Linked DNA regions of Homo sapiens. The protein of the gene in region 4 interacts with the protein of the main gene of each other region in a biochemical or structural test. Each region holds a gene or a part of one and is shown on either strand. Other genes may lie near its edges.

Region 1 (8,051 bases), on a different chromosome or scaffold from region 4:
TTGTTTTTTGTTTTGAGACGGAGTCTTGCTCTGTCGCCCAAGCTGGAGTGCAGTGGCGCGATCTCAGCTCACTGCAAGCGCCACCTCCCAGGTTCACGCTATTCTCCTGCCTCAGCCTCCCAAGTAGCTGGGACTACAGGCACCCACCACCACACCTGGCTAATTTTTTGTATTTTTAGTAGAGACGGGGTTACACCATGTTAGCCAGGATGGTCTCGATCTCCTCCTGCCTCAGCCTCCCAAGCAGCTGAAGCTGCAGGTGCGCACCACCATGCCTCACTAATTTTTGGTTTGTTTGTTTTTTGAGACAGAGTCTCACAAACCAGAATGCAGTGGCATGATCTCAGCTCACTGCAACCTCTGCCTCCCAGGTTCAAGCAATTCTCATGCCTCAGCCTCCCAAGTAGCTGGGATTACAGGGAGGCACAACCAGCACTGATTTTTTTTTTTTTTTTTTTTGGTAGAGACAAGGGTTCGCCATGTTGCCCAGGGTGTTATTTTTATTTTATTTATTATTATTATTATTTTTTGAGATGGAGGCTTGCTCTGTTGCCCAGGCTGGAGTGCAGTGGCATGATCTTGGCTCACTGTGACCTCTGCCTCCCGGGTTCAAGCGATTCTCTGCCTCAGCCTCCTGAGTAGCTGGGATTACAGGTGCTGCCACCACCCCTAGCTAATTTTTGTATTTTATTTTTAGCAGAGACAAGGTTTCATCATGTTGGCCAGGCTGGTCTTGAACTCCTGACCTTGTGATCCACCCACCTCAGACTCCCAAAGTACTGGGATTATAGGGGTGAGCCACTGTGCCTGGCCTGTTATTTTTATTTTTTAGTAGAAACAAGGTCTCACTATGTTACCCATCCTGGTCTTGAACATCAGGGCTCAAGCAATCCTCCTCCCTCGGCCCCCCAGTGTTCTGGGATTACAGGCGTGAGCCACTGCGCAAGATTGAACAATTTTTAAAAAATTACCCGGAGGCCGGGTGCAGTGGCTCACGCCTGTAATCCCAGCACTTTGGGAGGCTGAAACAGGCGGATCACCTGAGGTCAGGAGTTCAAGACCAGCCTGACCAACATGGAGAAACCCTGTGTCTACTAAAAATACAAAAAAGTAGCCAGGCATGGTGGCGGGTGCCTGTAATCTCAACTACTCGGGAGGCTGAGGCAGGAGAATCCGAGAGATGGAGGTTGTGGTGAGCCGAGATCGCACCATTGCACTACAGCCTGGGCAACAAGAGCGAAATTCCTTCTCAAAAAAAAAAAAAAAAAAAAAATTAGCTGAGTGTGGTGGCACATGCCTGCAGTCCCAGCTTCTTGGGAAGCTGAGTGGGGAGGACTGCTTGAGCTCAGAAGTTCTAGGCTGCAGTGAGCCATGATTGTGCCACTGCACTCCAGCGTGGGGAAGAGAGTAAGACCCTGTCTAAAAAAAAAAAGAAAGCTGGGCATGGTGGCTCATGCCTGTAATCCCAGCACTTTGGGAGGCCGAGGCGGGCGGATCACGGGGTCAGGAGATCGAGACCATCTTGGCTAACACGGTGAAACCCCGTCTCTACTAAAAATACAAAAAATTAGCCGGGTGTGGTGGCGGGCGCCTGTAGTCCCAGCTAGTCGGGAGGCTGAGGCAGGAGAATGGTGTGAACCTGGGAGGTGGAGCTTGCAGTGAGCCAAGATTGTGCCACTGCACTGCAGCCTGGGCAACAGAGCGAGACTCCATCTCAAAAAAAAAAAAAAGAAAAGAAAAGAAAAGAAAAATAAATGTTGTCCTCCCAAAGTGCTGGAATTACTGGTGTGAGCCACCGACCGCTCCTGGCAGAAATGTTAAATTATTTAATCTCATAACCTCATCCGACATGAGGAAGATAGTCCAGGAGAGCGTCATGGTGGAAGAGGATTGAGTTAGGCAGAGGAAGAGAAGTCCCTTCTGGTAAAGGAGAATGCCTAGGCAAAGGCCCAGAGGTGAGCTGGAAATACTTCCAGGTAACTGAGGCAGAGGTGGAAAGGTGGGTGATAACAAGAAACGGGGTTTCTGAAACCCTCAGAATACTTAGAACCTGAAATAGAAATTTATTAGGGCCTATTAATGTTAGGATCTCCTTAGACCAGGCTGAGGAACCCCATAGGATTTTATTCTTGGAGAAGTGGGATGGGTCTCTGCCACTTTCCAGCTGTGTGACTTTGGCCCAGTGTTGTACCTTTATTTGAGTTATAGGGTATACAATTCCTTATTCACAACAATGAGCTGTAATTTTCTTTTCTTTTCTTTTTGAGACGGAGTCTTGCTCTGTTGCCAAGCTGGATTGCAGTGGCGCAGTCTCGGCTCACTGCAACCTCTGCTTCCCAAGTTCAGGTGATTCTCCTGCCTTAGCCTCCTGAGTAGCTGGGATTACAGGCATGAGCCACCGTGCCCGGCATACTGAGAACTTTCTAATCACATGATCACCCCTACAATCTATAGAGAGTGTTATTCTTATCCCCATTTCATAGATAGGAGACTGGAGATCAGAAAGATTGAAGTTTGGGTTGCACTGTATTCTTCTTTTATTTATTTATTTTTTTACTTTATTTATTTATTTTTGAGACAGAGTCTCGCTCTGTCGCCCAGGCTGGAGTGCAGTGGTGCAATCTCAGCTCACTGCAACCTCTGTCTCCTGCGTTCAAGTGATTCTGCTGCCTCAGCTTCTCAAGTAGCTGGGATTACTGGCACACACCACCACACCCGGCTGATTTTTGTATTTTTAATAGAGACGGGGTTTTGCTATGTTGGCCAGGTCGGTCTTGAACTTCTGACCTTAAGTGATCCACCCGCCTTGACCTCCCAAAGTGCTGGGATTACAGGTGTGAGCCACCGCACCTGGCCCAATTCTTTTCCTTTTTTTTTTTTTTTTGAAACGGAGTCTTGCTCTGTTGCCCAGGCTGGAGCACAGTGGCATGATCTCGGCTCACTGTAAGCTCTGCCTCCTGGGTTCACGCCATTCTCCTGCCTCAGCCTCCCAAGTAGCTGGGACTACAGGCGCCCGCCACCAAGGCTGGCTAATTTTTTTAAAAATTATTTTCAGTAAAGACAGGGTTTCACCGTATTAGCCGGGATGGTCTCAATCTCCTGACCTCGTGATCCACCCGCCTCGGCCTTCCAAAGGGCTGGGATTACAGGCATGAGCCACCGTGCCTGGCCTTTTTTTCTTTTTTTAATAAGACAGGGTCTGGCTCTGTTGCCCAGGCTGGAGTGCAGTGGCGTGATCCTAGCTTACTGCAGCCTCCAATTCCTGGGCTAAAGCAATCCTCCCACCTTGGCCTCCCAAAATGTTGGGACTGCAGGCCTGAGCCACCCGTCCAACCCATGATATTTCAATTTCAGTCTTGGGGTGGGCTGTTTCCTCACCTGGAGGCTTCTCCTCCATCAGTCTCTGTGTATCTCATTCCAACTCCTTCTTTTTTGAGGCAGAGTCTCCCTCTGTTGCCCAGGCTGAAGTGCAATGGCGAGATCTCGGCTCACTGCAACCTCCACCTGCCGGGTTCAAGCGATTCTCCTGCCTCAGCCTCCCGAGTAGCTGGGATTACCGGTGCCCATAGAGACAGGCTTTCACCATGTTGGCCAGGCTGGTCTCAAACTCCTGACCTCAAGTGATCCGCCGGCCTCGGCCTCCCAAAGTGCTGGGATTAGAGGCATGAGCCACCACGTCTGACCCCCAACTCCCATTTTTTGAGGCTTGTTTTAACTGTCACTTTGTGTATCTTCTTTGTGGATTGCACAGACCAAAGTACGCCACTATTAACTGGTGTCCACCAAAGTGGATCCCCAATCCCCAGGTCCCAATTGGGTGCATTGGGTGCATCCTCTTTTTTTTTTTTTTTTTTTTTTTTTGAGACGGAGTCTCGCTCTGTCGCCCAGGCTGGAGTGCAGTGGTGAGATCTCGGCTCACTGCAAGCTCCGCCTCGCGGGTTCACGCCATTCTCCTGCCTCAGCCTCCCGAGTAGCTGTGAGTACAGACGCCTGCCACCATGCCCGGCTAATTTTTTGTATTTTTAGTAGAGACGGGGTATCACCGTGTTAGCCAGGATGGTCTCGATCTCCTGACCTTGTGATCCGCCCGCTTCGGCCTCCCAAAGTGCTGGGATTACAGGCATGAGCCACCGCGCCCGGCCCAGGTGCATCCTCTTAAACAGCTCCTACCTAGGGTACGTGGTGATGGTGGCGGGGGGGTGCTTCAGGCACCAAAACAGGCCAGATCGTGGGGGCCTCCAATACCCAACATTGAATTGGGATTTTATCACGTAAGCTCTGGGGAGACAGAGAAGGTTGGAATTTTTTTTGTTTTGCTTGAGACAGGGTCTCTCTCTGTCGCCCAGGCTGGAATGCAGTGGCTTGATCACAGCTCACTGCAGCCTCGACCTCTTGGGTTCAAGCGATCCTCCCGCCTCTGCCTCCCAAGTAGCTGAGAGGCGCGCGCCACCACCCTCGGCTAATTTATTTTATTTTATTTTTTTTTTTTTTATAGAGACGAGGTTTTGCCATGTTGCCAGGCTGGTCTCCAACTTCTGGGATCAAGCAATCCTTCCGCTTGAGCCTCCAAAGTGCTGTGATTGCAGGCGTGAGCCACCGCGCCTAGTTTAGGTTGAGCAGCGAAAGGGATAGGGCCCAGTGCTTTCTCTGCGAGGTTCAGTTGGCCTGTCCCTGTCCTATCACCGTTTGTCACCGTTTGGGGAGCGCCACGGAATGCCCTGTCTCCAATCGAGAGGTGCACTCGTCGCCCTGGCAACGGAGTCCGGAAGAACCACAGAGACGCGGCTCCAGCGTACAGAGCGGCCGCCCTGGGCCAGCAAGGCACCGAGCGCTAGAGAGGCACGTCTAGTCGATTGTCACGTGGCAGGCCAGGGGAAGGCGGGACTTCCGGCGGCGAGGTAAATTTTTTTTTTTTTTTTTTTTTTTTTTTTAATTTTCTTCCGGTGGCTGGTCTCCGGCGGCCCCGTCCCCGACTGGGCCCCGTGCCCCCCCGCCCCCGCGGCCCCCCGCCGCCGGGCCAGCCGCCACCATGAAGAAATTCTTTCAGGAGTTCAAGGCCGACATCAAGTTCAAGAGCGCGGGACCCGGTCAGAAGCTCAAAGAGTCCGTGGGGTGCGTGAGGAACGCAGGGGCTTGAGGCCCTGCGGGGCGGGGACGGCCGGGGAGAGAGATCTGGGGCCTTGGGCGGCTCGGGAGATCGGAGAGGATGAGGGGCTGGGAGCGGCACGCGAGGGTCAGGGGAGGGGGAGAGGCGCCGGGGGCGGACGAAGTCGGGCCGAGGGTGGGCGTCAGGGGGAGGGGAGAGAGATCTGGGGGCGGGGCAGGAGGGGGCGGGTATGACCCGGGGGCGCGGCGGGGGAGGCGAGGGGAGGGGAACTAGCGCAGGGGGCGGGGCGGGAGGGGAGGTCTCGGGGGCGGGGCCGCAGGAGGGTCCGATGCAGTGGCGGGGGATTAGGGCGACGGGGCTGTAGGCAGTTGGGGGTCAGTGGAACGACCTTTGGGGAAAAACGGGATCATGAGTCCTGAGCCGGGTGGTGAGGGAGAGCTCTGTCTGGGGACCCGGCTGGCCGAAGAGGCCGGGATGATTTGGGGCAATCTAGGTGACCATGGATGGGAGCTGAGCTTGGAGGAGGACGCACAGCTGTGGGGTGGGGTGGTGAAGAGTTGTTTTGAGGTATCCATGGGAAGAGGGGTTCTGGATTTGGTATCTGGAGCACGTGGGAGGCTGATGGGAGACTAGAAAGAGTCTGGAAGGCCAGGGAGGCCGGGGTGGGCAGCGTCGTCAGTGACCTGGGATGTCCTGGCGAATTGAGAGGGAGGGGCTGAGGAAGGTGTGTGAGGAGAGTGGAGGTGAGGGATTCTGACAGATGGACTCTTACCCGGGAGGGGCCTGAGAGGAGAAGACGGGTGAGACAGACGCGTCTTAGCAGGCTGGGAGAAAGAGCTTCTCTGCGAGGCTTCTCTGCCACGTCACTGTGCCAAGTGGATTATGGAAGTGGGAGAGGAGGGGAAAGGAGATAGATGCCGGGCAGGCTTCCGGATTGTCTAGGGAGGACTTGGAGAGAAGGGCCTGAGCAGGGCTGAGCCAGCTGGGAGGGCCGGGGAAGAAGTGGAGCTAGGGAAGGTGCAAGGCTGAGGGCTGTTGGGTTGAGAAAAGGGAAACTGGAGAGCTGGGGCCGCTGCAGGGAGCTGGCTGGCCAGAGGGTGGTGGGGACTGATGGAGAGGGACTGAGGAAGTCAGCCAGGCAGCCAGGACACGGGTCTGTAAGCAATAGTGGAAGGGATTGTGAGGGAGTGGGGGCTGGGAGAGGCAGGGAGGTGGCAGGAAGTGGGGGTCAGGAATCACGGGGCAGTGGGGTGGTGATGGAGGTAGGGGCATAGTGAGGACGTCAGGGTTCCTGGGGGAGAGCAGGAGAGCAAAGGCTGAGTGAGGGAGGGAGAGGGGTCAGGGAGAGAAGGGGGCAAATCGGGGGAGCCCTTCATTGATTCAACCAATAGTGGGTGGGGGGTGCTGGGGCCACTGGGACTGGGCATGATAGGAAGGATGCAGGGTATCGGGGTGATGGCTGGATCAGCCCAGAGCCTGGGCGGAGAGGGGAAGGTTGGAGGGGAAGGTTGGGAAAGGAAGCGGTGCGGAGGTCCCTTGTGGAGCGAGACTGCATATCCAGGGTGTGTGGGGTGGGTGGGCACCAAGTCCTGTTTTAGGCTGCAGTGGTGGACAGGAGAAGGCCTCTGCTGTCCCAGGGCTCACCTTCTAGAGGGAGCCGATGGACAAATAAACCAACAGACCTTGGATGAGCGCTCAGGCGATGAGTGCTTGGATGAGTGCCCAGGGCCTCCAAGGAGGGTGAGCAGGGGCCGTCAGGTGGTTTGGGAAGGCCTCTCCCAGGACACAGTGAGACTCAGCTGTGGGGAAATCTGCCCCTCCTTCTCTCCCTGCGGCAGCTCTAGCCCTTTCCAGACCCCCATCCTCCTCCCACTCCCCCGGAGAACATTCTGGGCAGAAGGTGCAGACAGTGCAGGGGCCTGCAGTGGGGAGCAGCTGGGGTGTGGGAAGAACTGCGGGGAGCCCAGGGGAGACAGGCCACGGGAGGGCAGTGGGCCAGGCTGGGAAGGGCTCTCTGGCCAAGGGAAGCTTTAGGATTTTGCAGTGGGAGGGCGTTGTGCAGTGGAGTGATGCTGACGCTCCCTGGCTGAGGTTCCAGAAGGGTCCCTGTGGCTGCCCAGGGGGGCAGGGTCCATGGCTGGTTGGGGTGAGGTGCCCTGGGAAATGGCATTTTGTTGGAAAGACCCAGATATCGGATGAGGCCGGGGTGGGTCTTCATGAGTCATCTCCTCTTCCACCCAAGATGCTCAGCTGTGGGAGGACTAGATAGGCAGGGGTGGGACGAGGAGGGAGGGCTGCCCGGGTATGTAAGCAGAGCCAGAGGAGTATAGGGCTTGAACTGAGAGCCTGGCCTCCCAGAAGGTTTTAATAGACCTACGGCACAGAAATTGACACAGCCCGTAAGTTCATGGGAGGGGCCTGAGAGGAGACGGGTGAGACAGACGCGTCCGAGCAGGTTGGGAGAAAGGGCTTCTCTGCGAGGCTTCTCTGCCAGGTCACTGTGCCACGTGGGTTACGGAACTCTCCTTGGTGTAGGGCTCAACAGGGTGGAGCCACGAGTCCATGAGCTCTTCGTACTTGCACAGCCCTAGGCCTGGCATGGAGTGGCCAGGGCGAGGCTGGTTCTGCTGTCCGCTCTCCCCAGGGTCCCGCCACGAGGGTGGCGTGGCATGGGGCACATCGCCCGGACTTCCTGTCCCTCTTGGGTTTAGGAATGGGATGGTGAGGCCTCCCTGGCAGCTTGTTAGGAGGAGTAAACCAAGCGAGCCGACCAGCTCCCAGCAGGGTCCTGGCACACAGTAGGTGCTCAGCAAACGAAGCTGTGACCTGAGGGTGGAGAGTCTTATGGCAGGGAGGGAGGGAGGATGTGACACCCCTTGAGTCTCCTCAATTCCTGAGGATGCGGGCTGGGTGCTGTGGCTCATGCCTATAATCCCAGCAGTTT
Region 2 (7,336 bases), on a different chromosome or scaffold from region 4:
GAGAAGCTCAGTCTTGGTTCTGAAAGGGAGGTAACTAAAAGGGCAAAAGAAAAAACAAGGGCATGGTAGAAAAACAGGAAGAAAACAAAGTAGGGTCGAAGGGGACTTTCTGAAAGGGAGAACTTGAGATGTACTGAAACCATGGGAACATTGAATTTGTCTTCTTGGCTGGAACATGAGGTGATGAGTTAAGGGTTCTACTCCGTAAGGTTTGGTTGGCCAATATTTTTAGGTCAGGTGCTGTATTATCTGATTACAGTGTTGCAAATGCTGCTTTGCACAAGGCAAAAACTGACTTTTGTGTGAACTTAGTGACAGAAAGCAGAGTTGATCCAGAATTCAGAAAAGACACATCTCACATTTGTTAAAGACACTGACTCCTATCTGGTCTGTCTTACAAGCCTACCCCCAAACATAAGACTGAAGACAGGAAAACATATTTTACAGAAGAATATGGGCTAATAAATTCAGATATATTTTCCTGTATTTTTTTTCACTGAGAGGAGAAAAAAGAAATGGTAAGCAGTAACCAACTTCATAATTTTAACAAGTGTTAATTTTAACTTCAATTCTATAAACACACAAATAAAAGATATATAATGTGCATATCTGAGGAACCACGCAGCCATATAGATTTAGTGAAAACATTAATAATTTAATGTCTACATTAAGTTTCAGAAAATAACTGTATATATATTTTCCAATAGAAAATTAGTAAAGTAAGTATGGAACTGATAACAGATGTTAGAGATGACAGGGCCATTCTGAAAAATAAGTTTATGCTTATACGAGACTCTTCTATTTAGTCTATAAGTTAATTATGTACTTATTCAGAAATTCAAAAGAACCAAGGCAAGAAAACCCAAGACCAATATGAAAGGTCGAATGTAAAATGTTTTCATCTACTTACGTTATTACAATAAAATGCGTAAAATACTCCTGAGACATAGCAGCCCAGTATTCCAATAGAAATTCCTGCATAATCTAATGCCATCCATCTTCGACATGTTTTTTCTGACCGATGGCAGGAAAAAAGATGATAGCCCACAGAGCAAAGCATACAGACCTGTGAAAAATAAAAACAAATTAACAAAGTGACTAAAGAAACTAAAGCAACTTATGCATGATATTCAGGGAAGTAGTTAAGAGGCTAGGCTTTCAATTCAAACATTTATGGGCTTGGATTCTAGCTCTGTGCCTTACATGGCTACTGTAGAGCTCACTCTACATGTAGAGCCATGTAGAGCCATGAGGGAAAGCCTCAGTTCCCTCATGGGTAAAATGTAGATAATAATAATGAAGGAGAAAATTTAAAATAACTATATTACAAAATGAAAATTATAAATAAATAGCACAGTAATGGGAAAGTTATACAATGCAAATGTTTTAAAACTATCATCTGAGGCTTGTTTTGATCCATGAATTAATTTGTTTTTAAAGAGTATTTACTATAGAAGCAATATATAGCCTTAAAAAAATCAAAGAACATAAATATAAGCCCCTCTTACTCAATCTATTCCCCAGAGGTGGCCAGTGATAACATTTTTTATGTGTCTTTCCAGATATTTTCAATACATATGTCAAACACCTGTGATATATTAGTCTATACACATGCACACATTATATATATATATATATATATATATACACACACATTTTAAAATTAAATGAAATCACACTATGCATTCTGTTCCACAATTGGCTTTTTTTCAGTTAAGAATGTTCATGTCTGTATGAGATTCATTGTATAGAGTTTACTTTTAATTTCTAAGGTAAACACAGTTTTATTGCCTTCAAGAAAAAACAGGCTGGTGTAGTAGTGGCTCATGCCTGTAATCCCAGCACTTTGGGAGGCCATGGTGGGAGGATCTCTTGAGCGCAGGAGTTCGAGACCAGCCTGGGCAACATAGGGAGACCTCATTTCTTAAAAAAAAAAAAAAAAAAAAAAAAAAATTGGGCATGGCGGCATGCACCTGTGGTCCCAGCTACTTGGGAGGCTAAGGCAGGAGGATTACTTGAGCTTGGGAGATCGAGGCTGCAGTGAGCCGTGACTGCCCCACTATACCCCAGCCTGGGTGACAGAGCTGTGACTGCCCCACTATACTCCAGCCTAGGTGACAGAGTGAGATCCTGTCTCAAAAAATAATAATAATAATTTAAAAAACAGTGATGACTTGCTAACTTTATATGGTTGCCAAACTGAGAGTAAAGCTAATCTGATTCAATCAGCTGTTCTGATAATTGATAAGGTTCTATGGCAGAATGCCTTTCAGCTATTAAGTACCTGCTGTATGTCATACATTGGAGGTGATACAGAATCACTGAACAAACAGTACAGTAACAAATCCTACTGTACTTCAGTGCACAGCATAATTGGAAAAGGTGGGAGGATATTGACTCTGTGGAGGTACATGTGCATTTGGAGGGTGGGACTGGTGGGAAGAAAAGTATCAGAGAAGGGCTGTTCACCTGAGGCAGATTTTAAAAGTTGGGCTGGCATTCACCAAGGACATAAAAAAAGGTGTGCACATATTTATGGCTGGGGGCAGGGATTAAGGAAAAGCATCATATTCTTTATAATATGATTATGACATTTCCTATACATTAATGGGTTTTAACTTCAATATTATGGGTATGATAAGATACTCCTGAAGATTTTAAGTGCCCCCCAACAGAGGTGTGGACTAGAAGGGCTGAAACAGGAGGTTACAGAAATAGCCCTGGAGAGCAAACACTGAGACAGTGACAGTGGGGTGGAGGCAATGGGACAAATAAACAGTATAAAGTAGTTACAAATGATAAACATTTTGTAAGCTATTGCTAAGGCAGTAACATGGTCATCTAGCTATTAATATTTTATATTCTGGTCATTAAACAAATCTAGTTACTATAGACTCAATATCAGTATTCAATAACAATGTACTTTGCCACAACTTCATTGCTTCATCAATTGTCTAAAATCCTTAATAGTCTATAGCTTTTTGGTTACTAAGCAACCAATCAGTAACTAATTCTAAGTTAGTTATTTAAACGTAACTCAAAGAAGTTTGGTTATTTGTTTTCTCAGATTATCCTTGAGATTAAGCACCATAAATCAGGAGAACATAAAAGTGTATATTTCTCATTGATGGGGAAAGATCCCATTGCCACAATGTTGAATGACACAAGGGCAGGTCGCAAAATAGCAAGCAGAGATGACTGTAGCTTGGAAGTAGGTAGACAGGTAAGGGAGCAGGCAGGTAGGCAGGTGCAAGGTAGCTATGCATACACAAACATACGCATTTGGGTTAAACTCATTGTTTAACGCAAATGTCCAATGTGGTTACCTCTGAAAAGTGGAATTTCAGGTGACGTTTTCTTCCACAAACTTCTGTTTGCCTAAATTTCTACATGATTATATCTTGTAGTAATAATTAGAAACAAACATAAAGCTCATTTCATTGTGAAAAAGAAAATAAAAAGAGGAAAAAAAGAAACTATGGTATCCAAGGGAAAAGTAAAATAGCATTAACAGAAAACCCCAGATTTTAAAGTTAACCCATACCTAGTATGCCCTGTTTAAGAAGGAATATGTTATTCCTAGAGTTTAAAAATGGACTGAAAGATAATCTGGCAAATTGGGTATGTTTCAGTTATAATGGAAAGTTTCCTTCTATGGAGTACCTCACTCCATCAAGGTAGACAGATAATTACAGTGTTACATTCACATCGAAACTCCTTGGCATGATAACAAAATACCTCATGATTTGATCCCTGCCAATCTCTTCAGCCTTATCTTTCTCCATTCTCCTAGGTTTCAACCACAAAAACTAGTACCTGCAAGTCCAGAAAGTGCTAAGAAAGTGTGTCTTGCTTCTTTTTTCCTGCTTAAATGCCCTGCCTCACTGTCTCTTCTGCACACCTACGAGTGGCTTGACCTTTATACCAGGTTGGTTCTGTTCAGCACTGTTTTACCGATGCCTTGTATAGTGTCTGGATGTATATAGGACACATTCAACAAATATTTGTTAACTGAATGTAAATGGATCAAATCAAGGCATTATTGTATTCTAACATTCTTCTCCAAAATACAAATACCCTGGGAAGGTTCAAAGCCCCTCAATTACATTCTATTGTTCAGAATGTACTCTATTTATCTGGTTGCGAGGAAAGCACTAAAGCATACAGAAGCATAGGAGTGAGAAAAATGTTATGTCTTTTAATATTAAATGTAAATCAATATTAATAAATATATCTATGGTTTACTATACTGTCCACTGACCCTAAGAATCTGGAAAACTCAAGTGAACAAGTTATAATTTGATAAGAAGTGGTCTTTTCAAGTAGGGAAGATGTGCTCATCTGTCTTTAGTAAGTTGTACAGCATGTATTGTAACAATGATCATTGCACTAGCAAGTAGGAGAACAGGATTTTACTGCCCTGCTGAATAATCCTGGGCAAGTCACTGTAATATTTTGGGTCTGTTTCTTTATTGGAAATTGTTGTAATTATTTAATCCTTTTTAGTTTTGCAATGTATTGTTTTCTTAGGTCAATACTGAAATTGATACATATTCTCTGAACTAACATCAGCTGTGGCAGGTGGTGAAGGCATAAAGAATAGGCCTAGGGATGGAGGAAAAGAGCAGGGATTCTCAAAGTAGATAATATGCATATAACTAACAAGAATAGAAGCCAGTTTTTACTTAATGATTATTAATAGCATGTTAATCTATACTAAGATGCACCTAAAAATTTAAAAAGAAATTGATTCATTTCCATTATAAAATTGGTTATGGATTTCAAGGGATATTTTGGCTGTAATCAGGGCAAAAATTAAACCTCAGAAAGAGTTTATTTTTAAAGAATATTTGAAGGAAAAATAATTTTCTAATAACAAAAATAGATTATGCTTTCCCTCAAAGAAAATTAAAATATTATTCCAAAAATTGGAATTAATAAAAAAGGGGAAGAGAGATTTGTTTTGCTGTGTTTCTTGGCCATTGAAGTCCAAAGTTTAAACTTGAGTAAAATGATGACTCTCTGAAATAAAATGATACATGATGAAAGCGACATTTGTGCAGCTGAGTTATGAGATTCACCTCTCAAACTCAGCAGCAACAGGCTAACTGCAGGGAATAGCTACTCTGTGTCTGTCATGAGAAAGGGGGATAATAAGTTTTTCATTTTTGTGTTTTTTTATGTTCTCTGAAGCAGAAAAAGTTGTTTTAAATGTCAACAGAACTACAGTCCACATTTGTTTTCTGATTCAAAATTATCTGTTTGAAATCTAATAAATGTTAACTTTTAAAGACATTTTTACAGATTCTTGAAAAATGCCAGTGCTATGGAACTAACAAATACAGGAGGTAGAGAGGAAAAGAAACAACGTATTTGAAGCCAGGCCAGTGGGTTCAAAATAAATTAACATTAAAGCAACAGAGTAAAAAATCAATACCAGCAAAACAGGACAGTAAAATATAGTATGGAAATAACAAATACAAAAATCACAAACACAAACAGGAGGAAAGAGATGAGAAATCTTCCCAAACAAGTTTTAAGTAGGCACTAGTGTTGTACTTCAGCCAGATAATAGAATGCAATCAAAGATTCCTATTTTTTTAATTAATCTTAAAGCAGAGGTGCCCCAAAAGAAGAGGAAAGAAACAAATTCTTCTCAATCTTTGTAATTTAATGGATTTCAAACATACTCTCATAAGAACACATCGTTTGGTGTTTATGTTATGAAAATCAATAAGCTGACCAACATGCCATTCCGGGGCTCTTTAAAGCAAGTGGTAGGTCTGAGGTAAGGTCACCTGACCAAGACTGCCTGTCAAAAAGTTCTCTTTACCAACAGCAGTATTTGTGAAATGACTTACCTGGAAGCAGAAAAGACAAATAGAACAAATTACAAAATCTTCTCTGGACGCACTTGCTGAAGGTAACACAGATGTCATGTCATATATTCCCAGGGTGAAGAAGAGAAAGAAACCCAGCAAATGACTCCAGATGTTTACTGTCTCATTAGATAAAATAAACAAACTGGAAAATAAACACACATGCAACTGAGATTCACATTGGCCAACTTACTGTCACGTTCAAAGGTTAGGGACAATTTTGAGGAGTTACCTAATACTTGCTCCTTTAAGCTCTTACCCCACCTGTACCTTTCTAAATTTGATATATTATCTAATTAAATTATTCTAAGTTTTTCTACATCGCCACCAAGTCTGGGACCACAGTTTTTTGGGTGCTCACCTCTATTATCATACTTACCATTTCCTTCTCTGTATTAAGAGATTTACATACAAATTCCATCTCATCTTCCAGCCTATCAATTCCCTAATGGTCAGTACCATTCATCTTTATGACACTACTGTTCACAATGCCTTGCTCAGATTAGTCTATAGACTAAAGGTCTCCAGAAATGAACGTGCAGAGGAAATCTGGATGTTAACTAGCACACTCTATCAATAATACGTATCTGAAAACCTGCTCAGTGCAAGGTTAGGCATCATCTTAAAATACTTTCCTAGAGCTCATTAAATACAAATGCAAAATTAAATGGATTTAAGAGAAGCAAAATAAATATATATTGATCCATTGGAAAGGTTCTTTAAGATAGGCATGCCAGAACAACTTTGCCGTGGATGTTTTAAAACTAGTCTAGTTTCCAGGTGGCATAAGTTTCTCCTTTTCACAAACAACTGGACTTAACTTTTAATATGGGTACTACGTGCTCTCTTTCAAAATGCCCTGGGCTAACTGGACTTGGCAGCACAGGTTGCTAGAGCGTGTACCACCCTGAGTCAAGAGGCTCACTGTCCCCACCCTACACAAGTCACTTAACCTCTCCCGGCTTCAGTTTCTTCATCTATACAGTAATGGAGCTTCATTAGATGCTGCTGCAACTTTCTTCTAGCTCCTTTCTTACTTTTGTGAAATGGTTCTCCAGATGTAGATAGGACTCATCTGATTATTTACTGAAAGGTGACATCATGACTAAAGATTAAAATACTCTTGCATTTGTCTGCAAAATCTCGTATTTTTGCTTAAATTTAGGTTTTTGGTCTTCACTGATTCAGAAATCCTTGACATAATGACATTGACATATAACTCTAAATTTGTAGCAGTCACTGTGGTTCTCAGGTTCTCATTTTTACAAGAAATGGAATTTCCTATTTGCTTTGCTTCTCAACTTCATTTCTTGTAACAATGAAAGTGAGAACCATAGTGACTGCTACAAATTTAGTTATACGTCAACGCTTACTAGTAAGGATTTCTGAATCAGTGAAGGCCAAATACATGATGTATATAGCAAGGTGTCAAAACTATCAAATGATCATCAAAAATA
Region 3 (7,336 bases), on a different chromosome or scaffold from region 4:
TTCTTACGAGATTACCAAAAAAAAGATTTTTTTTTACAAAATGACATTACTTTTGTTAAAGAGTAATCACTATTACCATTATATGATAGCTTATTAGAGCAATATCTTAAAAGAGCATATACTATATTTAGTATATAATTAATATACAATATGAGTACATGCATTTTTTAGAAGAGTTTCATGCAAATGTCTTGGTTTTGGTGTTGAAACAAAGGTTTTAGTGATATGACAAATTCACTTAAGTAGTACTGGAAAAAATGTCATTAAAGGATAACATTTCCCTTTTTATACACATGGCAATGCATATAAAACCAAATCTCAAACATAAAATGCAAGTATTGCACATTGTTAAACACACTCAACTTGAAGATTCTGATCTGAAAAAAATAGTTCTGGGCCAGGCACGGTGCCTCGTACCTGTAATCCCAACACTTTGGGAAGTTGAGGTGGGAGGATCACTTGAGCCCAGGAGTTCAAGACCAGCCTGGGCAACATAGCAAGACCTCATCTACAAAAATTTAAAAATTAGCTAGGCTTGATGGCAGGTGCCTTCCCAGCTATTCTGGCGGTTGAGGTGGGAGGATTGCTTGAGCCCAGGAGGCTGAGGCTGCAGTGAGCCCTAACTGCACTACTGCCATCCAGCCTGGGTGACAGAGCAAGACCCTATCGCAAAAACATAAAAAATTAAATAGTTCTGTAGTAAATAATTTTTTCTATCTCTTACTGCTTTGTGACAAAACTTCTCGATGGCTGCTTAACTAGGATAAAATACCTTAAATGGTTACTAGTTTAAATATCTTCCAGTTAAACGTGTTATATTAATTATGCAATTCAAAGAGTATGATATGCTAATTAAGACACATTAGAAAAAGGCTGTATCGTAAGCAATCTTAAACTAGTGCCTAGAGGATGGATTAAAAATAATACGGTTTTACATTTCTTACATACCTATAGTATTAATCATAACATACTCTAGAGAAAACAAAACTAATTATACACAAATACACACACACACACACACACACACACACACACACTCCTGTAATTTTTTTTTTTGCAAGTCACTTAGATGGTGTTATAATTCAGTCACTGAAATAAGGGCCCGTGGTGTGGGAGAAAAGGAGCCGGGAAGCAGAGATACAGACAAATGGTTAATTTCACAGGTTTTGTATGTCACAGGTTTAGAGCACCTGGTCTCACTTCTGGGTTGACTCTTCAAATAAGAGAACCTGTAAAACTTATACTTCTTGTGGTTTTTCTATGTGAAGAACTGTCTCCAAAGGTTAGGCATTTCAGGGTAGTCTTCTATTTAGCTGAAGCAAATGACCCAGTTTCACTAGCATACTCGCAGGCCCAGCCTGAGTCATATCACGGGAGGCCAGTCATACAGCCAGCCCCAGCTGCATGCAGCCAACAATGAGCTGCATGGCTCTGCTCAAGACATTTGAGTGCCACATTGCACACGACAGCAAAGTTGGAGGAAATTTCACTTCTTCAGTTTTCTCAGACTTAGAACCAACCAAAAACCATTTTCTCTAAATACAGTTAGTCCTCCTAGAATCATTAGAGAAGCACACCTACTCTAAACTGTTAGAGCCCTGAAACCACAATTTGAGAAATTTCTAACAAGAAGAGGAGAAACAAAGAAATGGGACGAAAACAGATAATACTCATCTGTGGAATATGGAATATTGAGAAATACATGTATAATGACAAGGAGCACCACAAAATTAAATTTCCTTTTCAGTTTATCTTGTACTACTCATATATTTATAACCCCAGTTGATACTCTTTACATACAGATCAGAAACCCTGCACACACCTGCAGTCACTCACCCTACTCACACACAGCGCCAGCTAGCCATTCTTTCCTTCGACTCCATTTTATTTTACAGTCTGAGGCAAAAGAGATACAAGGGTTCTTCTGCTTCTTCCATCACTGTTACTTTAATAATTTCCTATCCTCAACAATCACAAATTTATATAGTTGTTCCTGTATCAGGAGTTTTAGAATTATGACAGTATTATTCCTCTTTGCATTTTTTTCTTCTTAATGAAATGCAAGTAACTATTAGCAGAGGCACAGATAAATGGTTAATTTCACGGGTTTTGTATTTCGCATGTATTTGTATTTAGCATGGTACTAACTTAATGAAATGCAACTAACTATTAGGTTGAGGGCAGAGGCTTTGCAATTGCCACAGGGAAAAATTAAAACTTCTTCTTCTCACCTGAAGACCAGAATAAGTCTAGAAATGTTAGAAATATCCATAAAACCCCTTTAGGTAACTATCTGCAGCTTTAGATCCATAGCATAACCACAGTGTTAACAGAATTAAGACCAATGAATTCAATTTAGGTAAGACCCCCTATTACCATCTTTACAACAGTTTATAAAGCAGAGAAATCCCATGATAAATTATTTTTACATTGTTTAGTCTCCAGATAATCTGTCAGTTCCAAGATGGAACATCAAATATTCTTTCCACATACCGTATATAGAATGAATACATAGGATGACTTGGCAAAATGGATTGAAAATCACCTGTTTAAAAGACTAGCAAGTAGTTCTTCAATCTTATTTTTAGCTTCAACTTCAGATGAACATTTTTTAAATGAATCTTCTTCACTAAAGGACTATCAAAGAAGCATAAATAAGGATTAGCACAAACTCAAATAACTATATCTAATTATTATCAGTGTACAGTCAAATAAATATTCAATACATTCTTCACTAACTTACCTCTTGTCCTTAGTTTGAGCCATTTAGTTCACTTTTATATTAACAGTTTTTTATCTGCAAGCTATTGTACTCACTAGAAAGTTAATATAAAATATTACTGTATTAACAGTTAATATAAAACAGTTAATATAAAATAATTCAAAGTTATGAAAACTCTAAAGCTCTAGTACCAACTCCAAGCTTTATTGTATGATTATGGCAAGAGTTCTTAATCACCTAGGACTTGAATCTAAGTTTATCCTTGGACAAGTTATTTAACCTTTCTAAAGTACGGTATCCTCATCTTGAGAGAGAGAGAATGGAAGGAAGGAAGGAAAGAAGAGAAGTAAGAAGGAATGGACAAACAACAGTACTACCTACCTTGATGCTTTGTTGTGAAGATTAAATGGACTAACATATTTAAAGCACTCAGTAAAGTGCTTGTCCCATAGCAAAAAAATCAGTCAATGTTAACTGGGTGATTATACCTTTCCCATTTGCTAAATCACTGGACTACTCTGAAAACAAGATTTTTAACAGATTAAAATATTTTGCCTCATATATGCATTATAGGCTATTAAAATTAAGTTGCACTGTCTTCAATCATAGTAGCTAACTTAAGATATCAAAATATCAATGCTTAAGATTCCATTTAAGAATACTTATTAATCCAATCTATTAATAATAAATCAGCCTTCTAATAGGAAAGGGATCACATACTAAGCAAACTAGAATAGTAAGAACATGGTACTAAAACTAGAAATCTTTATCTCAAATAATGTGATAACCAGTACTTAATTAAAATAAGTATCATCATGTACCTGAGGTGGTCCTGAGAGTATCACAGGGGAGTTATCCTCTCCAAAACTGAGCTTTTGGATACGCTGAGCAACTGAAATTCCTAATTCTTTTTCTAAAATTTTGGGTGAAAAGGTTTGGAGATCACGCACACTATTGATACCCAGTGCTTCAAGACATTTGGCAGTTTTATAGCCAATACCTAAATAAAAAGAAATGCATACAATGTTAAAATAGCTTTTCTCCTTAAAACAAAGCTAATTAAAATATTATAAATATATCAATCTTATCTTTAAGTTCTATAATTTATACAGTAGTCCCCCCTTATCCACAGGGGATACATTCTAAGACCTTCAGTGGATGCCTGAAACCATGGACAGTATCAAACCCTATATATACAGTACTGTTTTTCCCATTACATATATACCTATGATAAAGTTTAATTTATAAATTAGGCACAGTAAGAGATTAACAATAATAATAAAACAGAACTATAACAATATACAATATACAAGTTATGTGAATGTGGTCTCTGCCTCTCTCTCTCAAAATATCTTATTATTTTCAGACCACAGTTGACTGCAGGTAATAGAAACTGTGAAAAGTGAAACTGCAGATAATGGGGGACTACTGTATTTTGCAAAGATCAAACCCCATTGCAAACTAGGTTGCTGTTCTTCCACTCAGGGCTCCTGAATTATATGCACCTCTTTGAAGTCCTCACAAAATGCAGTAAAATAAAATGAATACAGAGACAGCCAATAAATGCTGTCTTACTAAAACAAAAATTTTACCACCTGTTATGTAATATTCCAGAAATATTCAGAAATCATGATTATTATTAATATACAAAAAGGCTGCCACTAGAGCAATTAAAATAAATTAAGTGTACATATTAGGTAACCTAACTGATTCCTATACGCACCACCACACATTTATCCATAAGTCATATCTAACATTTACCATCCAGAATACAACTATGAGCCAGAAAGCAAACAAACAAAAAATCTTGCTAGCAAAACTGTCACAAAGTTCTTGCACTAAAATTCGGTCATACTTTATTCACAAGAGAAAACAGGCTATTTAATGTCTCCTTATTCTTTTCATTCAAAAACAGTAATTCCACAGTTATCTGGTTTTCTTGCACAGTAAAAGCAGTAAGTTGGAGGAGATGGCTATGTAGGGGGAACTATTAAAGTAGAGTGACAGATTTTTCACAGCAGAAAAAAAAGAAGGTTGGCAATTTGGCAATAAGTGAGAAAGGAGAAAGCCTGTTAAAAAAAAAAAAAAAAGATACAAGAACTCGAAAGTAAAGCCAAGTAAGAATGTTTTGCACCAGTATATAGTCCTCAGTTTATTACAACCTGACATTGTTCTTCAGAATGCACTACCAAAGTCATCCAAAAAACTTCAAATTATAGTTATACTATACTAAGGAAGGCAAGGCAGTGTATAATACATTTTGGAATCACGCAAGTATCAGTTAAAAATGTGAAGTATGACATCTAAGTTTCAGTGGTATTAGAAATTCACTTCCACAGAACTCTTTTATAACATCTTATTCCCTAGCAATACCACAGAAATGTAGTTCAACATATTGATGGCCTATAAAAACTTGGGTATTTAATCTTCAAAGATACAAACTTGCCCCATGACCTAAATAGGTCACCGAACTCCTCATGGAAATCAGTTTCCTAATCTTTAAAATGAGGACCTTGGCCTAGATGTTTTGGAAAGTCCATTGTAGCCTTAATATTTTATATGTAATCCCAAAAGAGTTAGTAAAAGACGAACTCCCCTCTCTAGAGGCAATGTACAGTATAAGAGTATGACCCAGGGACTGGAAATAAAGGACCATATGTTTCTAGGCTATAACTTTCATGACCATATTCTAACCATACAAAAGTAGATAAAATAAGAAAAGTACCTTCACATATTTCTTAATCCAAATTTGCTTGAGAAAACATTACAGTTTTTCTTAGTTTTTTCCAGGAACCAAGTATACACACACACACACATGCACACAAACTCACAGACAACTCTACCTAAGAATTAATTACATTGTATCTATAATTTTTTAAATTAAAAGAAATAAAATAAGACGTATATGTACTTTTCAAATATATTTGTCTTACCAGGTATTTCCTTTATGTGATTCAAACTATGAATAAGATGTTGACAACTTTCAGGTAATAAGACTGTTTGTTGATTTGGTTTAAAGACACCAGAAACTAATTTTGCCAACAGTTTATTAGAAGCCACTCCAGCACAGCCAGTGAGCCCCAACTGATTATACATGGCTTCCCGCATCTCTGCTGCAATCTGAGATCCAACAAGTAGTCTGATGTGCAAGACGTCAAGCAGGTTTATAGCTTTAAAAACAACAAATGTCATTCAAAGTCACAAGAAAAACCTTTTTCTTTTTCACAAAATAATTTTTAAAAGGTAGAGGGCTTAGTCTATATCCAACAACCACCACCACCACAACCACCACCATCATCACCTGGTATGGTTGTGATATTTGTCCCCTCCAAACCTCATGTTGTAATTTGATCCCCAGTGTTGGAGGTGGGGTCAAATGGGAGGTGTTGGGATCACAGGGGTGGATCCCTCATGAATAGATTAAAGCCCTCCCTCAGGGGTAAGTTTCTGACTGTATTAGTTCCAAAGACAGCTGGTTGTTAAAAGAGCCTGGCACCTCCCCCAGCCCTTGCTTCCTCTCTCACCATGTGATCTCTGCACACACTGGCTCCCTTTTGCCTTCCACCATGAGTGGAAACAGCCTGAGGCCCTCACCAGAGGCCTAACCTTGACTTTTCCAGCCACAAGAATCATGAACCAAATAAACCTTTTTTTCTTTATAAATTACCCAGTCTCAGGTATTCTGTTAAAGCAACACTAAATGGACTAAGAGATCACTGCCACCCTGTTATCCACTTGACTAATCTCTTTCATGCTTCATAGGAATACTGTAAACAAATTCAATAAGCAAATTCCAAGGGCCTGTGATAGTGACTGTGTAGTGGGAGTGCTTAATAATTAACACATTGTGAAAACTGATCTCATAAAAAAATTCCTACTGACATTGGCAAAACTTTTACTCATATTTACCCGTAAGTAGGCATAGAAGTATTATTATATAACAAGAAAGCTAACATTATACTTTAAAGATCTAAATCTTAACCACGCACTAGCAGTATATGCTGCTAGAAACAATCTCTGACCTGTACACAGTTTTAGAGCTCTTTTATGAAAAGTGTAAGAAAATTATATAAAAATAAATTTGCTTTAGGTGTAAAACAGTGTTGGAATGACATGAAACCATCCTAACCTCAAAGAGACTAACGCTAAAAGTATTTAGAGATGAAATGTCAGGATGTCTGCAATTTACTTCCAAATAGCTCATCAACCAACCAAGCAATCCATAGAGAGAACAAGAGAAAGCAAATGTGGCAAAACGATAACAACTGGTTTATCTACAAGAAAGGACATAATGGGCCAGGAGTAGTGGCTCATGCCTATAATCCCAGCACTTTGGGAGGCCAAGGCAAGCGGATCATCTGAGATTAGGAGTTCAAGACCAGCCTGGCCAACATGGTGAAACCCCGTCTCTACTAAAAATAAAAAAATTAGCCGGGTGTAGTGGCACATGCCTGTAGTCCCAGCTAGTCGGGAGGCTGAAGCAGGAGAATTGCTTGAACCCAGGAGGTGGAGGTTGCAGTGAGCCGAGATCACATCACTGCACTCCGGCCTGGGCGACAGAGTGAGACTCTGTCTCAAAAAAAAAAAAAAAAAAAGAAAAGACATAATGGGTAT
Region 4 (7,336 bases):
TCTGACTTAAGCATTTGCTTTGGTCATTTTACCTGATCGTCTGGGGAGAAAAACAAAAGTCTTGTCTTAAACTGCTCAATAATCCTAACTGCCTAAGCAGCCACTTAGTTGAGGTGTCTCTGCTGTCAACTTCCCACAAGAAATTATTTCTTGCTCCTCAAATATCTCAACACTCTTTTCCTTTTTTTTCCCCTAAAGATCCACACAGGCAGAAGCCTGAATTTCTCACAAGTTCACAAAGATACAGATACAACAGTGAAAAACTGAAATAGTCCATAGGTTCAGGTTACAAGAGCTAACAAATGTCAGAACCAAACACAATGCTATATAACTACGGGAAAGATTTACTAACATGGAAGGATGCTTATGATATATATGACAATGACCACAAAGAATACAGATCAAGTACAAATGATGATCAGGGTGGCAATGTCATGATGTAATCCTTATTCATTTTGGTTATTTGTATTTCCTAACGTTTCTACTCAAAAAAAAAAAAATGACTTTCACCTGCTTTCTCCTTTCCACTGCCCCCCACCCTGCCCAAATCAACAGAGTACAGAAATCTGATTATGAAAATTTGTACTTATATTCTCCTTAGTAAGCTATCAAAACAGACGCAGCATATGTTTTAGTCAAACATTTAAAAAAAGCTTAACGTAATAGATATAGTCGGTTTGATCAAAACAATAATCAAAATAAATGCATGAAGTTCCTGTTAAACACGGATTTTGAGATAGAATGTCCTAGAATCCAGTTCCTACCTGTCAGTTGCTGTTGGGCTAGTAGCCACTGGTGTCTCTGCTGGCTTTTCTGCAGGCTTCTCTTGTTTAGCTGCACTAGCAGGTGCAGGTTCAGAAGATGCTGTCGCTGATGCTGGAGTGATGGATGCAGGTGTGGAAGTGGGGGCCAAGGCAGGGACAGGGGTTGGAGCCTGAGCCACAGTTGTGGTGGTGGAGGAAGTAACTGCTGTAGTGCTGGCAGGAGCTGACTGCTGAGTTGTAGCTGGTGCTGGTGTGGACACTGCTTTGGGCTAAACACATTAAAAGACAAAATAATTACAATAAAATACTACATACTGCCTGATCTCTAATTAGACTGTACCGTTACAGGATGCCACAAACATAGCACTAATAACAACCTATAACTTGAAAATAATTTTGTAAAATGACACAATAAATGATCAATATTAACAATCTGACTCATGGTTACTCTTTCAAAGCTCATGACAGCGTATGTTAATCTTAACTATCAACCACAATTAATTTTACCCAACAATTTCCATCTTCATATCAAGTTAATATAAAATAAAAAATTTGAAATATATATAGATATATAGATATATATATATATATATATAGATATAAACCGTATCATTTTCCCAAAAAAACTTTATGTACCTAAGTTGTAACTTTAAGGTACCTAATACCACTTAAAAGCATTAATAAAATAATTTTCTTTAATTTTAAAGACAGGGTCTTGCTACCTTGCCCAGGCTGGTCTTGAACTCCGGGCCTGAAGCAATCCTCCCACCACGGGCTCCCAAAGCGCTAGGATTACAGGCATAAACTACTACATCCAGCCCAAAATAATGTTCTTGAAATGGCAGTATAAATGTTTATTTATAAACATGTCAAATATTCTGTTGTACTGTATTTTTAGAAGAGGGAGGAAAATCCCAAAATTGACTACAAATCAACAGATCCAAGTACAAAAAGGTTCACAATACTTTCAGACATATATGTAATTAAGCAGAAAAATAAAGGCCAAATTAAGTTACCTCCACACGCTCAGCACTTTCTGAACTGGAAATAGAGCCATAAAGCTTCCCACAGAGCAAAAAAACAATTAGTTGACCCTTGAACAACAAGGGTTTGAACTGCACTGGGTCCACTTACATGATAATTTTTTTCAATATAAGTTACACTGAGTGTGCCTGCCTCTCCTTCTACCTCCTCCATCTCTGCCACCTTGAGACCGCAATACCAACCCTTTCTCTTTCTCAGCCTATTCAGTGTGAAGACAAGGATGAAGACCTTTATGATGATCCACTTACACTTAATGAACACTAAAAATATTCTCTCTCGTGATTTTCTTTTGTTTCTTTTTGAGAGAGGTTCTCACTCTATCGCCCAGACTGGAGTGCAGTGGTATGATCACAGCTCACTGCAGCCTCAACCTCCCAAGGCTCCTGCCTCAGCCACTGCCCCCGCCCCCAACACCAGGTAGCTGGGACTACGGGCTCACACTACCACTCCCTGCTAAATTTTTGTATTTTTTTTTTTTGTAGAGACAAGGTTTCGCCATGTTACCCAGACAGGTCTCCAACACCTGAGCTCAAGCGATCCGCCCACCTTGGCCTCCCAAGGCGATGGGATTACAGGCATCAGCCACCACACCTGGCCATGATTTTCTTAATAGTTTCTCTAGCTTACTTTAATACAGTATATCATACATGTAACATATAAAACATGTATTAATCCACTGTTTACGTTATCAGTAAGGCTTCTGGTCAAGAGTAGGCTATTAGTAGGTAAGTTTTGGGCAAGTCAAAAGGTATATGCAGATTTCTGACTGTAGGGGAGAGGCCAGCACTCCTAAGCTCAGTGGTGTTCAAGGGTCAACTGTACATGTGTAAAAATCATACATGATTTTTAGTCTTCTCCTAAGGCCTCTCAATGCTCGCTACCTGTTTAGTTCATAACTTTCCCAAGGACAAAAGGTAGCTGTTTTAGTGGAAGACAAGGCTTAAATTCAACATAATTTGCCACAGGCATAAACAAACTCTAAAACCAATGAGCTGCCTTGTCTTTTTGATTTGAACTAATAAAGAAGACACTAGGAAAAAGGTTAGTGAAAGGTGATAGGTTTTTAAAAAATACTAGTAGCATTACTCCCTTCTTTTCCTATTTAGCTTAACTTTCTTAACAGCCAATATAATATTCTGCAGATTATTACTGTTCTAAAACTAAAATGAGCTGAAATCCTGAGATCATTCTGGATCTTCAGTTATTCTGGATAAACTGGAGCTTCACAAAGGTGAAAATTTAGAGTCTTAAGCACCAAAACTTTATAATAACCAATCTAGATAAAAATGTATTTTTAAAAGTGGTATACTCATTTAATATTTTCCTTAATTGTTATCAAAATAATATTGCAATGTAACTTCCCTTCAAGGTTCCTACTGCCAAGAACAGCTACTTATACTTTATTCTAAACAGTACCAAGCCCTTCTCTGCTTTTTAGTTTTTATTCTTGCTTTTGATCTTAATAGCTTTTTCCTTTCCCTTCTTTGTATTAATAAGGTCATTTCTCAGTGCTTCCATAATGCCTTACTGTAGCAGCATTCCCTCCCTTTTCATAGTTGTCCTCTATTAACTTCAAATAAAACAATCATAAATATCATTAGAATCCTATGTAATATTAGGAATAAAAGACTTTAAGGAAAAACAAAAGGACTGTATGCAATATAATGATAGGCTTCAAGTATCTATTCCTCAAACACACGCACCTATTGAGACTTTTTCTGCTTAATTCTTGTGTTCTAAACAGTCAGGATCACTGTAATATTAAAAGAAACTAAGACCAGTAACAAAACATATTTAAATGTGTGGCTATCACATTTCCCATTATGTACTATGTATGCTAAAACTAGATAGGAAAATAGGATAGTATTCAGTCTTAAAAGTTCAGCAAATTCTGGCACAAGCTATAACATAGACAGATGAACCTCAATGACATTATGCTAAGTGAAATAAGCCAGTCACAAAAAGACAAATACCATAGGATTCCACTTATATGATGGTGATAGCTGCAAAACAATGTAACTATAATGTTATTGAACTGTACACTTAAAATGATTAAACTGGAAGTTTGTTATATTTTACCACAGTTGAATAAAAAAACCTAGATGATACAAGGTTTCCTCACGATTCTGCTTGTTTTTAAACTTAACATATAATGACTTAAGTTCTTAAGTATAGCAAAATCAACATGGTTCTTAATGAATTAAAAAATGTTCAACACTTGTAAACTATTTAGCTGCTTGCTCCCAGTACAAAAGCATGTGGTAATTAGAATTTATTTCTTCGACTCTATTTTCTATTACTATTAACTATTTTGTGACTTTGAGAAAAAACCCACATTTAATCCACTTTTGGCCTTTGATGAAGTGGTTTCAATTAGTGATTTAAACTCATTTTCAGTGCTACAAGTAACACTGTTCTTTCTCAGATTATGACAATCCAATCCTAAAAATGAATGTCATGAGTACCACTTCTCCATTTGTCTCTTAATTCTACACTGCATTATATATCTTTAAATAAACAAGTATATAAATAGTCTCTTAAAAAAATCCATGTTCATTCTCTGCTTTAAAAAAAATTTAATTTTATAAATTGTTCCAAATACATTCCAGCCTACTAAATCACAAAAAAGTATCTGTTTAAAACTTCCAGGCTGGGCGCGGTGGCTCACGCCTGTAATCCCAGCACTTTGGGAGGCCGAGGCGGGCGGATCACGAGGTCAGGAAATCGAGACCATCCTGGCTAACACGGTGAAACCCTGTCTCTACTAAAAATACAAAAAAATTAGCCGGGCGTGGTGGCATGCGCCTGTAGTCCCAGCTACTAGGGAGGCTGAGGCAGGAGAATGGCATGAACCCGGGAGACAGAGCTTGTAGTGAGCCAAGACAGCGTCACTGCGCTCCAGCCTGGGCAACAGAGCGAGACTCCGTCTCAAAAAAAAAAAAACAAAACAAAAACAAAAAAAACTTCCTCATAAAAATCATTCCATCATTTCTTTAGTTATCTTTTCCCTTTTTTTAGTTTCTAAAAACATATTCTTTCACTAAGAACTATCACTGTAATAATAAGCTTTCATGCCTTTTCTGTCTTGAGGAATCTGTTAGGACTAGTACGTAATTTAGCAGGTCTATTTAAGGCAAGCTTACAAAAACTACAGAATAAACATTTATTCCACTTATAAAGACATTTTAAAAGAATTATATAATGATTTCACTACTGTAGCAAAAATAATTTTAACATGACATTTTATTTTTCAATTGTTTTAATTTACATAAAATTTTATTAAAACTATATTATAGTTTAATGTGTAATTAATGTAAAACATTAATAACTTTATGTTTCACTTAAGGTAAATTCTTAAAAACCTTTCATAGTAGTTAAGTGTACACCACTATGGATGTGTATAAACTGTGTCCATTGTGTGGACTTGTGATCATCATTTTTAAAAAGACCTACATGCATAAAGATATACAGAATGAGGTTGAAACTTACTTTGGTCACCATAACCACCACAAAGTTTTTCTCATCAATTTTATATTCTTTGAGAGCAGTATCATCATTGAGGATTTTGCCTAATACATTAAGAGAAAAAAAAATCATTTAAGGCATAATCTTTCTCTTACACTTCAGTTAAAACAACTTTCTACTCGAAATATGAATATTTCAGAAATATTAAAATATGAATCACCAACATAAATTCTATCAGTTAATACTTTTCCCAAAGAAAAACCAATCAATCAAGATAAAAATAAAACAACTCCTAAGTGGCAGGGCATGGTGGCTCACACCTGTAATCCCAACACTTTGGTAGGCTGAGGAGGAAATATAGCTTGAGGCCAGGAGTTTGAAACCAGCATGGCCAACATAGCAAGACCCTGTTTATGAAAAAAAAAAATTCAAAATTAGCCAGGCATTGTGGCACATGCCTATGGTCCTAGCTACTTGGGAGGCTGAGGCAGGAGGATCACCTGAGCTCAGGAGTTCAAGGATACAGCGAGTATAATCACACCACTGCACTCCAGCTTGGGTGACAGAGCAAGACCCTCTCTCAAACAAATAAAACTAAAAAGCATAAGCATTTGACTAAAAGATGTCAAACTTATATAGTGTATATAGAATGACAATCAATTTTTACAAATGTATTGATTATATAAAAGACTTACTGGGCAAGGAAATATGAAAGAGGCCCTGAAAAGGAGGAGATCATGAAGATAAAGAAAATTCAATACTCCGATTGCACAGGGGTCCTCTGGAAAATAACCTATATTCTTTTATGATATGAAGAAAGGGAGAGAAACAAATTTCCTGCTCCCCAAAATACTGATATCTGATAAATCAGAAATGTTCTAACACTATCAAAGCAAGATACTAAAAGTACTTCAGAAAACGACATGATACACAAGAAAGGGCAAGATGCTACAGAACTTAGAAATGCACGAAGTACACAAAACTGTGGTCGTGCTGAAGGTCACTATTAGGTAGCTAGGACTCTCTAGTGTTTCTTGCTACATGAATTTAGTTTTCCACCTTTAAAAAGCTATTGAATCAAAAGCTGCTAACATTAAGTCAGAAAGGAATATGGATAGGAATGAGAAAACAGGCCAAAACAAGAAACTGGAAATTTGAATTTTATGTCCGCTTCTTTAGGCTTCTGAATTCTGACCTATAAAAATAATGGGACTGAATCACCAGGTTAGCATTTCCTCCAGGCTGTCTCACTTTAGGAAACACTATTCAGAAAAAGAGAAGAATCCATGGGTGATCAAACACCCACCTTACTAACATCTACAATGAAAGCATTTTCTCTAAAAATTTGGATATCAAATGTATTTTTAATATACATTTTCCTGGTTATTAGTGAGGCTAGTCAAATGTATAATTCCTACTCTTATCCTTTGTTGCTTTATTGGTCATCCTTTCCTTACTGATTTCTAAGAATTCTTTACATAATCTGAATATTAATTTTTTTTCTTCCTGTAGGTGTCTGTGTGATGTGTTTTTTCTGTACTCTTCAGTTAGTTTTGGTTAAAATAATTTTACAGGAATGATTCCAAGCATACTAATAATAACACAATCAGTATAAATGGTTTCAATTCAATTTAAAAAAAAAAGCTCCGTTTGATTAAAAAAACAAAAGCCAGTTACACGATGCTTACAAAAGATAAAACAAAACTAATACCATTTGATGGAAAAATACACAGGGCAAATGTGAATAAAGAGAAGATTGAATATTAATATTAGATTCAAATGACTGCTCTTTCACTGCTTTTATTTGTACAATCATTTTTCTGACAATTTGAATATACTACAATATATAAGATAACATTTCTAAAACTAAAAGAATATCAAGACATGGCATGTTAATTTTAATATTTAATTCATACCTGCATAAATTAATTTTTGACCTGCTACTGGAAAGGCATCTTTCCCCTTTTCAGATTCAATCTTCTCTTTCAGTGCTTTCACCTATAGGAAAAATAAAGATTTGTTTTGGAAAAAGTCTAAATAAAAAATGACAATCCAGAATCTGA

Evidence for each region.
Region 1: the proteins of RAD23B (region 4) and UBXN6 are reported together in a solved structure, tested with the Homo sapiens proteins (one study listed by BioGRID).
Region 2: the proteins of RAD23B (region 4) and PAQR3 form a complex in vitro, tested with the Homo sapiens proteins (one study listed by BioGRID).
Region 3: the proteins of RAD23B (region 4) and POLI form a complex in vitro, tested with the Homo sapiens proteins (one study listed by BioGRID).

The regions. Positions count from the first base shown.
Region 1 is NC_000019.10:4,454,676-4,462,726, reverse strand, and holds the start of UBXN6 (UBX domain-containing protein 6), read left to right. Parts: upstream 1-4,932; 5' UTR 4,933-5,029; coding exon 5,030-5,112; intron 5,113-7,425; exon of another isoform or gene 7,426-7,506; intron 7,507-8,051. UniProt on the Homo sapiens protein: May negatively regulate the ATPase activity of VCP, an ATP-driven segregase that associates with different cofactors to control a wide variety of cellular processes.
Region 2 is NC_000004.12:78,929,260-78,936,595, forward strand, and holds part of PAQR3 (progestin and adipoQ receptor family member 3), read right to left. Parts: intron 6,025-7,336; coding exon 5,862-6,024; intron 3,401-5,861; exon of another isoform or gene 3,327-3,400; intron 1,067-3,326; coding exon 911-1,066; intron 1-910. UniProt on the Homo sapiens protein: Golgi-scaffold protein which modulates its interactors acitivies by anchoring them to the Golgi apparatus. Functions as a spatial regulator of RAF1 kinase by sequestrating it to the Golgi apparatus.
Region 3 is NC_000018.10:54,279,223-54,286,558, reverse strand, and holds part of POLI (DNA polymerase iota isoform a (long)), read right to left. Parts: intron 5,893-7,336; coding exon 5,656-5,892; intron 3,723-5,655; coding exon 3,544-3,722; intron 2,817-3,543; exon of another isoform or gene 2,744-2,816; intron 2,638-2,743; coding exon 2,546-2,637; intron 1-2,545. UniProt on the Homo sapiens protein: Error-prone DNA polymerase specifically involved in DNA repair. Plays an important role in translesion synthesis, where the normal high-fidelity DNA polymerases cannot proceed and DNA synthesis stalls. Favors Hoogsteen base-pairing in the active site.
Region 4 is NC_000009.12:107,300,076-107,307,411, reverse strand, and holds part of RAD23B (UV excision repair protein RAD23 homolog B), read right to left. Parts: intron 7,272-7,336; coding exon 7,190-7,271; intron 5,378-7,189; coding exon 5,298-5,377; intron 1,034-5,297; coding exon 765-1,033; intron 1-764. UniProt on the Homo sapiens protein: Multiubiquitin chain receptor involved in modulation of proteasomal degradation. Binds to polyubiquitin chains.